Linked DNA regions of Homo sapiens. The protein of the gene in region 1 interacts with the protein of each later gene in a pairwise test. Each region holds a gene or a part of one and is shown on either strand. Other genes may lie near its edges.

Region 1 (7,027 bases):
AGTTAGTACAATAGTGAAAACTGCCTGCTGGGATGTCAGGTTGCAGCATTTTGTCAGGCTTGAATGAAAAAGAAAGTCCAACATTAGTAATGGAATGGGCAACTGACAAAGGTGCCTTGCCCTTAGACTCAAATTGTTTTTGTGAATAACCAAGAGAGATGAGGTTAGTGCAGTGCCGGGTCTTCCCTAAGCTTAGCTACCTTTGCAAAGTACATGATATAATTCATTGTGGGTTGTTTTGTTCATTTGGGGATTTATTTGGCTTCAAGACTACACAATTATATCTTTGCCTTGACTACTTCAAGCTAGATCCAGATAATCACGTCCAATCTTCTTACAGATGCTGTTGTGTGACAATGGCTGTAAACACATGTCATTAACTGTCTCCTTAAACTCTCACAGTGATACTTCTTGGGTCCCACATCTTCCAAAGAAGTCCAGCATACACACACACTCACCCACCCACAACCTGTCCCACATCCCCAGAAAAGAGAAAGAGTGAAAGATGCTTCACAAAATCGGCCTCAGCCTGGTGTTCAAGTTGCCTCGCTCAATATGCCTGTGCAGTCAGACCTGCAGGAAGAAACAGCTCATTTTTAAACTACTGTATATGAAAGTTTTTGCCTGGAGATACATCACAGATAGGCAGATCACTAAAAAGAAGAGTGGATTGAATCAGAGTGAAGTCTTCAGTTAACTGTTTGTTTATTGCCTGTGAGGTCCAGGACAGTTTCCTTTATTCTCTCTTCCATTCTCATCTTTGAAGGTAAAATTTCATTTCTTTCCCCTTCCTATGTCCTAAGATGCCCTGAAGACACATGAGAAAATGTGGCTGATTCCCCAGGGATGGAAGCCAGCAAAAATGCACAGAAGGGAGATGGGAACATTCTCAAGGGTCCTTATATTGAGAAAGAAAATGAATGGATTAGTGGTGCTGTGGTGATGAACTATCTGCCCTAAAACTCCTGCCAAGATCAGCCAGCTGTTCTCTGGCTAGGCTGGGTCTCAGGGGTGTGAGTGGGTCTTGGCCAGCTGAGTTGAACCATTTCTCACCTCTTGATAGTCATGCAGCCTACATCTGTCTGATGGAACCCTCTCCCTGTGTGCTTCCCATTTAAGAGAGGCACAATTTGACCCATGTTATGGAAGAAAACAGCTAGAGCGTTCTACAGGAAAAGTGCTATAATAGGTCCTAATAACTATTCACACTGTGTTATTACTATGTGCTATCTAGTTCTAGTTTCACAAGCAGTAGAATAATTTCCTACCTCTAAGATGCACTGAGCATTGACAAACAGGAAAGAATAACACAGCTGGGAAAATGCTGACCTAGAAATGCTACTGTTTCATGACACATACAAAATCAATCCTCATTTTTTATTCTAAGTATTTCAGCGACTAGTAGACTTTCAGAACTGGAATTTACTCATCAAATGTTCTATCCATATATGCCATATTAGCTTTAGCTGAGCTTACCAGTTTTCTGAAAATGCTCTACTATGGCATGAAGCTAAGCATTCCAGAAGCAAGAGCAGTGATTAGAATAGTTCCAGGGCCAGAGGATAAGTTTGAAGATGAAATATAAGATATTTCATGAATTGTGACATATATAAAATGATATCCTGGGTGTATATATGAATATTATGGGCATATAAAATCAGCACTACTTTAGAAACAACTAAAGACAGCCAAATACTTCAAATAACTAATTTTCCTTCACTCATGGAAATAAAACACTAAGTATGGTGCCTTTCGAGGAAACTTCTCTGATAGTCAATGAAATACTCCATGTGGTCTTTGTTGGCAGATATATCACTATCCATTTGTTAAACAAGCAGTAGAGTGCTGTACATTTTTTTATGCCTAGAAATGTGAAAGAAAGTCTTCAAAATTAGGATAAAGAAATCTCTAAAATCAGGAAATTCCTCACCTTGATGAGACCACAAGGGAACCAGCATCCTTTGCAGACTGACCTGGGAGCAGCAGCTCACTGGGTCCTGAGAAACCACAGGGCTGTCAGTCAATTATTAAAACTGAGAAGACGTGTATATTTCCTCAAGAGCATGCAAATCAACCTGGACCCTCAGGAAAACAAGTCAAGACTAAATACAATTATGCCATAGCTACGCAAGAAGTTAAAAAACACAATTGTCACAATCTAAATAATTCTGACTGCACTCTTACTTTGAGAAGTGTGTCAAGAAATGGCAAACATTTAATTTGGACTTTGGGGATTTTTGCAGCTGAAATGCATATACCAGTTTCCCTGATATGAAATATCACATAGTTGAGACACATGAACCTGAATCCTTTCATGATATCTGTGATGACCACAACTCCTTTTTCCTGATCACTTTAATCACCCAGGCTGTTAACTCATTTTTAATCACTGTGTTTTAAAAGAAGCACTAATGATTGATTCTTGCCCCTTTTCAATATATTTTGAACTTACCAATTCTGCAGTTTTGTTAAATATGTCAAAATACTCTTTTCAACTGCACATTTTTTCAACGTGATTTTGACTCAAAAAGAATACAGCCATCTTTTAGTAAATGGAAGTCATGTTTGGAAAGAACAACCAACCCAAGGAAACAGAAGGAAAAGAAAGTCCTTTTTATTTGTTTCTTTTTCATTGTAAAGTCTTTCCTGCTGTCGTTGAGGCAGTTTTTCCATGTAAGGGTTTTTAGTCTGTCATGGAAAGCTGTTTAGACTGAGAGAACTTCTGTCTTGGATACCATTCATCATCTCATTTATTTTCTTTTATTTTAAATATATCATTAATAAAATTTTTACTCAGTAAGTAAAGATATTTTAAATAACCAAAGAGGAAGTTTTTTAGTTAGGTAGGAGAAATGGGTGAAGTGGAGGGAAAAAGAGTTGAATCCAGAGCCTCATAAAATATGAACTTTGGGAGTAATTTGAGCTATCCCAGTTTATGACAGAGGGTCCTGAGGATGAGTCTCACAAGGCAAATATACTGAGTGACTGTATGCATTTTTAGCACTTTAATTAGCCACCCAATATGCAGGTGTGCTCCTACTCCAAGAAAATCATGTAAACGAAAATCCAAAATTATAAGCACAATAATTTAGTAGTTGTTTTAATTAGAAATGCAACCTAATTTAATACAATTCCCTATTCATTTCCTTTAAAGAGCAGGCACTTTAAAAACATGATTCAATTTAGGAGGAAAAAATCTATTTTTGAATACTTTTTTGGAAGACCATCTATAAGAATCAACCCCATCCTGCTCTCATTGACATTTCAACCAGACTGGGCCATGGGACATTTGTTCAAGGCTAATTGCAACTGTCTAGATCCATAATGAAGGCTTTCCTGGGTGACCTTTATGAATTACAGTAAGTAAAGCTCCCCTCTGAGAAACCAGCCATTCAATACACTTTTACCTTTGGATGATGGGTTATTAGAAGCCTGTTGTCAGTGTGTCAACGATATTCTATTCGAGATGGAAACCTTTAGTTATAAGGTGATGGTGAGTAATAGCCTTTGTAATTTCAGGTTCTTGTCATTGTGGGAAGTGCATTTGTTCTGCTGAAGAGTGGTATATTTCTGGGGAGTTCTGTGACTGTGATGACAGAGACTGCGACAAACATGATGGTCTCATTTGTACAGGTGCAGTATTAACCTTTTCTAATTGCTCTATGCCACAGTTTGTTATAGAGCCAAGAGACACTCGTCATGCAATGCTTTAGGTGGCTGGACCAACAGGGCCAACCGTGAATATGAAATATCTACCAAAGGCGAAGTGGGCATTTGGGAAAAAGCCCTCACAAAAGCCTCACATTATTCCTAGGCATAGAAGAATACAAGAGAATGAAGCTAAATTTTGTGATTATTTGGGATCCTTCCACAAAGTAACCTCCCCACCCTCAAACTCACATGTATGCAGTTGTATATTGAACACAGAAAAGAATTTTGTTGGCAACCATTTTACTTTGAACATGGTATAGGGAATGAAATATTCTTTTAAACAGAATCTGGGTACCACTAGTTGATGTGTTGGTTGCTTTTAGGGAACTGGATGTGTGTATGGGGGAGAGGTATAAAGAGGGCTCAGCCGTGTCATAGCCACTGCTATCCTAATTTATTGAGTCCTCATAATTGGTTATAAATTCATTTGTTTAGCCAAGTTACGAGGAAACAGAGACATGTATACTTCTCCTCAGCTCTAGCTGAAGGTAAAAGATGACTCTTTGTGTGTCATTAAGTTAGACCTTTGCTTTCTGCCCATCCTTACTACGTAAGACTCTCTTCACGGATTACTTGGCCTGCCTCATGTTATGTCAAAGAGCCTTATGTTTTTCTGTATTTATTCATAAGTCAGATATAACTTGCTCTTTAAGGGAAAACAAAATTGTCACCTAAAAGCCTAGCTGGAGTGATACAGGATGGTGACTATCTGATCGGTAAAGGGTGGCACCAAATAAATGCCACTAATTGTTTGAAAGATTAGATGTCTCGCAGCTGCTTAATAAGATGTAATAATAACATCATTGCACAATAAGAAAATCTACCAAGGATGAATGAAATGATTTCATTGTGGACACTTGTGATTTATAATAGCATGTTTAAATTTGGCACATTTTGATCATAATCATGATACCTATATGTATTTTATTGCAGGGAATGGAATATGTAGCTGTGGAAACTGTGAATGCTGGGATGGATGGAATGGAAATGCATGTGAAATCTGGCTTGGCTCAGAATATCCTTAACAATTACATGAGAGAGGTCTGGATTCTTATTTTTTCTGGGCCATTAGAACAGATAAATGCGAAGGAAACCATGTATATTCACCACTAGGACAGGTTAAAAAGACCATTGTATGTTTTTCTATTTCTGAATTACGAATGAAATCCGAGTACCTATTAGAAATGAGTTATGCAAATTTAGATGCAAATAACATTAGAAAAAAAAGATTCTTCCATAATTAACATAAGTGGTTCCTAACGAGAGCAATTTTTCCACCCAAAAGTCATTTGGCAACATCTACAGACAATTTTGATTGTCACACTGGGTCGGGTAGGAAGGTATGCTGCAGACATTTGGTGGGTAGAGGCCAGGGATGCTGCTGAGCATCCCGCAGTGTACAGGACAGCCCCCAAACAAGGAATTATCCAGCCCCAAATGCCAATAGGGCTCAAACTGAGAAACATTGAGTTATATGGCTATTAGAAATCCACATTCTTACACAAGAAAGACCATATTAGAATCTAAGGAAAACATGCATATTCACATTAATTAATCGATCAGATTTTTCCAGAATTCCGTATCAGTCACCATTTTAATATGGGGACAATGAAGACAAGCACACAGGAGGTAGAATATCAGAGTGGGGCTGGATCAAGGGCAAAAACTGGTCATTAAGTCATCTGACATTAAATCATTTAGCCACTAAGTTATTTGTCTACTCTCACTTTAAACTCACCAAAGAAGATTCTCTTAAAGAAATTATGAAAAATGTACAATTTAACATTTTAAATAAATAGTGACAGAAGTTGTTTATACTCTGTGTCAGTATATATATCTACTGATAATTAAAAATGAATTGTTATTCAGGGATATCTATTTTAGGTTTCTAGAAATAAGGGATCACATTTTTAAAACTGGGCAGGGGTTATGCGTACAAGAAATCTGATTTTTTATTTTAATTTATTCCATGGTAGTGTGGCCTTTTAAAAAGACAATATTGAGTTACATATAAAATGGGCCTGAAGTATGCATCCATTTCCCTTAAAATACTTTTTTTTCTAAGGATACCTTACTTACTGGAAACCTGGGGTCATGCAAAGAAGTCAAGACGAGAAATACTGTGATAAAATGGCACCAATCTCAGAAGCTCACAAAAGACCAAAAAAAAAAAAAAATCTAGAAATGGCTTAAATAGAAATTACAAATATTCACTCAGTGATAGGAACAAAATGTTTATTTTCTTAATGGTGAAACTTTGCTTTGTATGAAATTCACATTGAATTATGAAAGTGTACAATAATTGGGACTTCCCTTACATATTTACAGGTAAATCTACTTATACACATTAGTTTAGGCAACCTTTAATTATTTAGAGCTAAAAAAAAAACCACTTTTTTTCTAAAGGTGAATTACTTTGTAAAATCCTAGAATAATGTAGCAAAATCATTTCCGTATTACTTTAAGATGAAAATTTTTACTTGGAAATTTTATTTTAATGATGTAAATATTCTAGTCATGGCTTAAACTTTATAAGTCAAATTTCCAAAAATAAGGAAAATATGCATCCACTGAGTTACTTAAAAATTTAATATTGAAAATTATTTTAAGAGAACATTTAACTGATCCTGATTTTTATAGTACTAACAATGTTCTCATAATGTAATAGATTTATAAAAATTGTTATCTCTATCCTGAGATTAAGGAGTGCAACCATGTTGTAGTTCTATTATTGAGTACGTAAATTGATAGATCTCTTCCGTAAAATGAGGGAAATATAAGTAGTCAATAAATAATGTAGGTTATATTCTTTCCTCTTCACTACCTAAACATTTTAAGCTGTGAACAACCTATTATTATTGTTTTGTAGCAATTTTGATGACGTATTCGCTGATGCACAGACATTGGAATTCATTACATTATCTAGCCATCGTAATACAAATGACCTTTGGATTTCTCTATCACGGCGCTTATCCTCCTATTAAGGATCAGAAAGTTAAACTTTACGGACCACGTACGTCCCTGTCTCATATTCTTCTTTGTTGGTTTCTGTTTAATACTTTAAAGCTGTAAAAAAAATTTAAAAAATTCCTTCTGAGCTCCCAGGCCATACAAAAGCAACTTAAGGGTGGATTTGGCTGGCAGCTGGGCAGTACTTTGTCAGCCTCAGCTCCACTGGAACTGCCCTTGATTCTCTATAGCTCATCACAAAACCTCAGGTATGTCTTATTTTTCTTATAATCCTCTGTATGTTATTATCCTTTTTATTAACAACAACAACTACAACAAAAGTGCTGCTCTTTTTCATAGTCTCATG
Region 2 (7,027 bases), on another chromosome or scaffold:
ATGAAAGGTTTCAGAAGCAGCTGAAGTTCTGGGCTGCTCTCTCAGTCTGCCCCAGCATACCCGTTAAGAACCTTGCCCAGAAAGTCCCATCTCTGAGATTCATCATGATGCAGATTGGGGGCAGGAGGAGTAGGATCAGTTATCCACAATCCAGAGGGCCAAGCCACCTTCCCTGTTTTTCTCCATGCCCTCTACCACACTGCTGCTATTTTGTCCTAAAATGGACAGGGCATTTATCCATCAGGTTATCAGGAAGACAGGCATGAAAGACCCATTGTACCATGAAGTGCAAATCATGGCTTACAAGGGTGAGGAGAGCCAAATGGAAAATTAAATTAAAGTCTCTGAATTCACAGACTGAACGTACTAAATCAAGGGCTGACAATCCCAGGTCTTCGAACACACCACATCATTAGCAGCACCATTTAACATACTCACGCTTATATTACTTCTTGGCTCCAGAACCAGAGTCACTTTCATTTCCCCTTCTGGGTGCAGGTGGCTGAGATAGAATAGTTTCTCTCCCATCATTCTCTCTCGGGTCATCTTCCGGGCAGCGTACAGGCGGAAGCGGACAGCACAGGCAGCCACATCTCTGGGCTCCAGCTTGGCAAAGGTGACCTTCTCCCTGAAGACGGGGTTGGGCCCTCTCTGTATGTTCGTCCTGCCCCTGTGTTTCTTACCAGGCAGCAGCACTACATGAACTTGCCAGGAGTTGACACCACTTCGGTCCTTATCTGGGAGGCCCTGTGCCCTCACAATGGTCACTGTGAGCTTCTGGCTGGCGGCTCTATATTCAAAGATGACATCTAGGTCACCACACTTTGAGATGGGCTCTGAGACCCCGGATGGCACCTGCAAATTGGTCCTGTCCTGTTCCTGTTGCAGGCAGAGGAAACAATTAGAAATGGAAATGATGATACCCAATTACATTTTGGCCAGTTGGTGCCCCTTTGTGCTCCTTCAGAATCCCTGCTTTCTAACTGCCAGTGTATTCCCTCTATATCAGATAGGTCTGTTTACTGGTCTATCGCTGCATTAAACTGTGAATTCTTTGACGGCAAAGTGCCTAGCATATGGTGCGCCTTCGTGAATGTTTTTGGAATGGATAACTAAAGCTTTTATATTTTTGCAAAGTGTTTTCATATATACTGCCTCTCAAAAAGCACAATTGCCCAGGATCATTGAAACCAACTGAGATGCTAAATCTAAAATTAAGTCAACAGGCAATTGTCCATAGGCAACTTTTCCTTGTGTCCCTAAATACAGATGGTTGAGCCTGAGCCTGTTCTCCACAGGCAAGAGCTTTCTACAGACAAGAATTTTGATGGGAGTCCCAGGAAGGTGATGCTTCAGTATATTTTCAATCTAAGTGGGAGAAAAGGTTTAGGGCTGAGCTTCTCAAACTTTAATGTAGACCTAAATCATCTGAGGATTCTGATTCAGTAGGTCTGGAGTGGAGCTTGAGATCCTGCCATTTCTGGGACAGGCACAAGGGATGTTGACGCTGCTAGCCTCGGCTCACACTTTGAGCAGCAAGGATTTAGGAGGACACCTCCACAGCCCTTTAGTAAACAGCAACACTGAGCCTGGAGCCAGAACACCTAAATTGAAATCATAACTCTACCACTGACTAGCTTTTTTACCCTGGCCAAATAGACCAGCCTCTCGGTAGTCTAGCTTAAAAATGCACATTAATGTGCCTACTTGCTGGTGTGTTGTTGTGAGGTTTTCATTGATATGAAAATACCTGGCTTAGACCAGACTGCATAAATATCTATTCCCACCACTGGACTGGTGCTACCTATTCTCAAACACACATCCCTCTTTATGGAATGTCACCCTTGGGTAGCAATTTACATGCAGCCACTCAGATCTGATGACCTTACTGGGAAAACTGAGCTAGGCTGCATTTATTATAATGAACCACCCCACTAACAAATTATAAATAATGTCAATAATAATTCTATTTTCCTCTGAAGGCATGATCCTTACCTGTAACTAAACTTTGATCTGATTCTTATTGCAAACCAGTTCTTATTTATGCAATTGAACACCAGAACTTGCTAATTTAGAGATCTCGTTTCAAATTATAATACAATGCCTCAAAATGTGCATCCATCAATGAAACTTTCCCACATAGTCTGGGTGAAAGTTCATGGTTCTCTGGGTTCGTATTTCCTTAGGAAGCCCAGGCCTACCACTTACTAGCTCTATGACACTGGGCAAGTCATTTAATCCTTTCCATGTTCTATTTTCCTCAACTGTAAAATGGAGATGGTACCTTCTGTGTAGGGATGTTGTAAAAAGTAGAGGACTTGACAGACAGTAGACATCTAATAAATATCCTTTTCTTTTAAGATTCAAATTAGCCTGCAAGAAAATTTAGATTTCTTGTAAAATAAGTGAAGCTTCTTATATCCTTTCCTGTGAGCATGCAATCATGCGTGAGTGTTTCTATTCAGAGGTACTTAGTTTCAAGTGATAAAAGTGGTTGCTATAGAGACTTTTGAATACAACTGACTAGTGTATATATATTAGAAGCAAGTCTCCAAGGATTTAGGCCAACTCAAAAATCAAGTCAGAATCTTCTCTCAAACTCCCTTGTCTCTTCCTAAAACTCCCATCTATTTTAGCCTACTCTTGATCATCTCTGTATTGCATTTCTGACCATAAGTAATAATAGCTAACATCTACTAAACTATTTCTTATGCCAAATACCATATCAAATCCTTTACAGACTATAAAAATTGGCTCTTAAACACTTCAGATCTTCTTGGCCTTAACTCATGTTCCATCTTCCCCTAAGGCACAGCCTATATGGGCTCTAAGTAGTTTCAGCCTGGAACTACTCAATAAAGTCTTACCTTCTACCCACACAATATAATTCTCATTTCTTATCATTGGTCTCTCTGTCGACCGCCAAGGCTTAGACAGCTGCAGAACCCTGCTTGACACCAATATATGTGAAGTCTACTTTTTGCCCCGTAGTCAGTTGTCCTATCAGTTCATACAGCTTCTTGGAGTGTGATCACACAAGATCAGGCAATTAGCCATACTGAGTGGTGGCCAATTCAACTGTGTATTCTCACACTTGACCTCCCTTCTTCCCTGCCTTACTTCCCTTGTCTCGCACTTTTGTTCCCTGGGGTTGCACTCCCAAAGCAGGGAACAAAGCCTTTACGTAGGCTCTGCTTTTTTGAGGAACCCAACTAAGAAACATTATCTTTTTGAATATTTACATCAATGCAATGAGGTAGGTATTTTAATATCTTCATTTTATGGAGGACGAAACTCAAGCTTAGAAAGACTAAATAACTAACACGCTCTCTCCCCCCAAGCCCAGATCAAATTCCCAGACAAGATTATCCAGGACTCATGCCCTGGCAGTTTGAGTCCCAGGCCTGCCTTAACTCGTATCCAATACTCAAAATTTCAAACCTTATTTTGAAACATACAGTCTCCTTTCTTCTTCCCCAAACCTTTAGGCATAACTATTTCTACATATAGACATATGTGTGTGTGTGTGTGTGTGTGTGTTTATATATATATATATAGAGAGAGAGAGAGAGAGCGAGAGAGCACTAGAGAGAGAGAGAGAGAGAGCAAGCGCACAAGATGAAGGGGGAGAAGACGGAAGGTGGGGGTTGGAATCACACTCTCTGTGGTTTTCACATCCTTTGAGGCCCCTGCTCTTAATGTTAGTTAATAGCTCTTAGTTTTGTCAACTTCAATGCCAAGGTAAAAATATTTTAGTGAATGAGGAGCTCTCTCCACTTATGTATCAGGCTGTCTCTTCGGATAAATGCTCACTCCACCTGCAGGTTTCTAAGAGAGTCCTGGGTAGAGCTCCTGACTGTCCTAAGAACTCCTCTGAATAAACAGATCCTGCCAATGGCTGGGCTTTGGATAGGCCAATTCAAGCTGTGGCCCATGAAAACTGGGCTTTGTAGCCCCTCCCTGGGTTGATTTGAGAAAAAGATTTGTGAATGCTGGTATTTTCATAGCAATTAATTATTTCAACACACTTTACCTCTCACCAGGCAACTGAAGGAGCTCCTCACTTGGGTACTGTTAATACCACTAATCCATCTGACCTTCCTGCAAGGTAAAAATCTCTTCATTCTTATCCCCATTTGGCAGATTTTAATTAACTTCTCAAGGCCAACCAATTAATCAGTGGAAAGCAGAGATGAAAAGTGGGACACCTGTCTCCCTGTGTGCTCAAAATCACCAGCCACACTCCCATTGTCTTTCCTGCCAAGCCCTGGGTCTGCAGGAAAAAGCCAAAGGCCTTCGCCAGCAGAGAAGAGCAGAGCTCGAAAATCCATCAGCCTAACAGGTAGTCACACTGCACGACCAGTTTCCTGCTGAGACAAAATAAATGATTCCTTGAGCTCCAATATCCTGGGCTTTTCCTTAAGATGAGAATACTTGTGTCAAATTGTCAAAACCCAGGTAGGTTTAAAGATTTTCTGTCAAATTGAAAGCCTTTCTGTTTTAGTAAGATAGTGTTGATGTCATCTGTGTGGCCTAAAGTAAACAGGCCTACAATATGTTCCTGATGCCAGATACACAGGGGAAGACAGAGTTCTCAATACAGCTAAGAGGCAAATAAATCATTTCTTAAAAGGCAAGCTAAGCCTGCAAAGCAGGCAGTTACGGGAACTGCCTCCGAGTTGGATTTGAGGTTCTACTGTAGGAGCACCAAATTACAGTTTTTTCTCAAAATAGATAGGAGGTTGAATGGAGCACACAGAGATGTCTGGGTATTTTTGGAGTCTGAGAACATTTAGTACCCTCAATACCGAGTCTTCTATTAAAGCTCCAGCAGGCAGGTAAATGGGAGGTGACCTGGAGAAGTCACTTCCAAGCCTCATGGCACAATCACCAAGGAGACAGAGTATCAATAGGCAGGCAAATCATTTGGTCTGTTTTGTTTTTGGGAGAGAGATTCAAAATATTTTTTAAGAGTTAGTGTGTGGGATTTGATACGGCTTGGTAGTAAACTAACGGGTAAGCAGAGTTTTTTCTTTTTTTAAACAAAATGTATAAAGTTAATGGCTTTGGGTGCCTCCATATGAAGGGCTGCTTTTTAACAAGCCACAAACCACATATGTGAGCTACCATTTCTGGTCCTCAGCAGAGACATCTACACAGGGGCACAGATGTGTATGCATACCCCTCCTTAGATACTACCTACACACGCCAACATGTTAGCAGTTAAGGCTTGGAAACAGGGTTTTCTGTGATTCCTTTTTTTTTTTTTACCTTGAGCATTTAGCGTGTGTGACACTCCAAGTCCTAATAAGAGATGCATCCTGTTTATTTTCTCAAATGGATGCTAATAAAATCCATTCACCTCTCTCCTTCTTCCCCCATCCCTGCAAATTATATTAAAGGTTTATATATGTATATGACTTATTTCATCAAAATTAATTTCAAATTAGGTATTAAACACCATTCCTTAATGCCTTCCAATGTCACAGAATCATGATAGGAGGGATCTATCTAATGGAAAAATAACCGTAAGGGCCAGTAAAAGGAAACAATTTGGTAAAATCCTTATCACAGTGCCTGGCATATATTAACTGCTCAATAAATGGTAGCTACTACCATCATCACCTCCAGCCATATCTCTGGATTGATTGTTACATTTATTCTGGACTAAGCTTTACTTGAAAAAGAACTTTGGAAGAAGTATCTTTTATCAGAGATTTACTACAAAACCAATGTCAATGGCCAGAGGGGCATTACTGATTAATGCTGTCTCCTAGGCACAAAATATATTTTGTATATATTCACAGTGCAAGATCTGCATCATTACACCTTGTATAATTTCACTTGGAAGGCCATTTCATTTTAGTTCAATTTTCAAATAATTTTCATATCAAATAATCGTAACTTGAGATTTGGGCTAAATAAAAATAGACTCCACTTAATTGAAACCATGAAGTAAATAAACCAGTCCCTCTAAAGAACTGAAAATTCCATTATTTAAAATTAAGTCTATAAAAAGCCTTTATATAAAAGAAAAGCCTGGCTGTTCCTGGATCCATTCTGCCACCATTCTTATTTTTTTTTCTTTTTTTCTTTTTTTTTTTTTTTACCGTTCATCCTTTTTTTTCCATTTTGAGAGAAATTTATGACTCTTTTATTGACATGCATGGGATTTTGGTCATCTGGACAAAAATTTATTGCAGATAAAAGTAATGCTTCCTTTCTGGAATTTTTTTTTTTTTTTAGAGAGATGAGAAAGGAGAGTGGAAAGAGGGGAAGGGGAAAGGGAACCAATGAAAGAATGAAAAACAAATAACTTGCCTCTGGACTCCACATGGAGGAGCTGTCAGTGGCATAGGAATCTTCAAATCCCCGGCTATTAAAAGCTGTCTCCATCTCCAAGCTGCCCTCTGTGGATTGGCGCCTGAGGCTTTGGACCACACTGGACTCTTGGTGAGATGTGCCGTGGTGTTTGGCATCCCCTCTTTCACATGGGGACTGTGAGTGAGCAGGGATGTGGTCATCTTCACCGTAGGAGAGATTCTCAGAATAACGCCGTTGGCTGGCTCCATCCAAATCTAAATTTGCAATAAGAAAACCATTTCAAATGCATTATTTTTAACACCTTTTTACCTAGAGAAATTGAGTAATTGCAGTCACAACAATCAAGATTGCAGAAACAGAACCCATACCAATAATACCTGCAGAAACATAATTCTATCCATACAGTGAAGAAACTTGATCCATAAAATGAAAAAGAACATTATCTCATTATGTGGCGTATCAGAAGGCTTAATACTTTTTAAATATGAGTGTAGAGAATATATATTTATGTCAAAAGGATAAAATCGACACAGCATTTTGCTGGAGCTAATGACCACAAGACTTCTGCAATGGATCTAAAAGCAAAAAGAGTCATCTAATATGGAGATCGTATGGTCTCCCGACTCTACCATGCTTCCTTTCCTCTTCAGTGTTTACCACATTACCCTCTGCTCAAAAAGCTTTGGTGATCCTACCAAGTAAA

Evidence for each region.
Region 2: the proteins of FGF14 (region 1) and SYT16 interact in binary tests that used the Homo sapiens proteins (3 or more experiments, as listed by UniProt).

What each region holds. Positions count from the first base shown.
Region 1 is NC_000013.11:101,710,919-101,717,945, forward strand, and holds part of FGF14 (fibroblast growth factor 14), read right to left. Parts: 3' UTR 4,737-7,027; coding exon of another isoform or gene 4,645-4,736; 3' UTR 3,634-4,644; coding exon of another isoform or gene 3,520-3,633; 3' UTR 1-3,519. Other genes in the region: ITGBL1 (integrin beta-like protein 1 isoform 1 precursor), read left to right, coding at 3,520-3,633, 4,645-4,736. UniProt on the Homo sapiens protein: Probably involved in nervous system development and function.
Region 2 is NC_000014.9:62,074,686-62,081,712, reverse strand, and holds part of SYT16 (synaptotagmin-16), read right to left. Parts: coding exon of another isoform or gene 7,020-7,027; intron 6,579-7,019; coding exon 6,322-6,578; intron 880-6,321; coding exon 439-879; intron 1-438. UniProt on the Homo sapiens protein: May be involved in the trafficking and exocytosis of secretory vesicles in non-neuronal tissues. Is Ca(2+)-independent.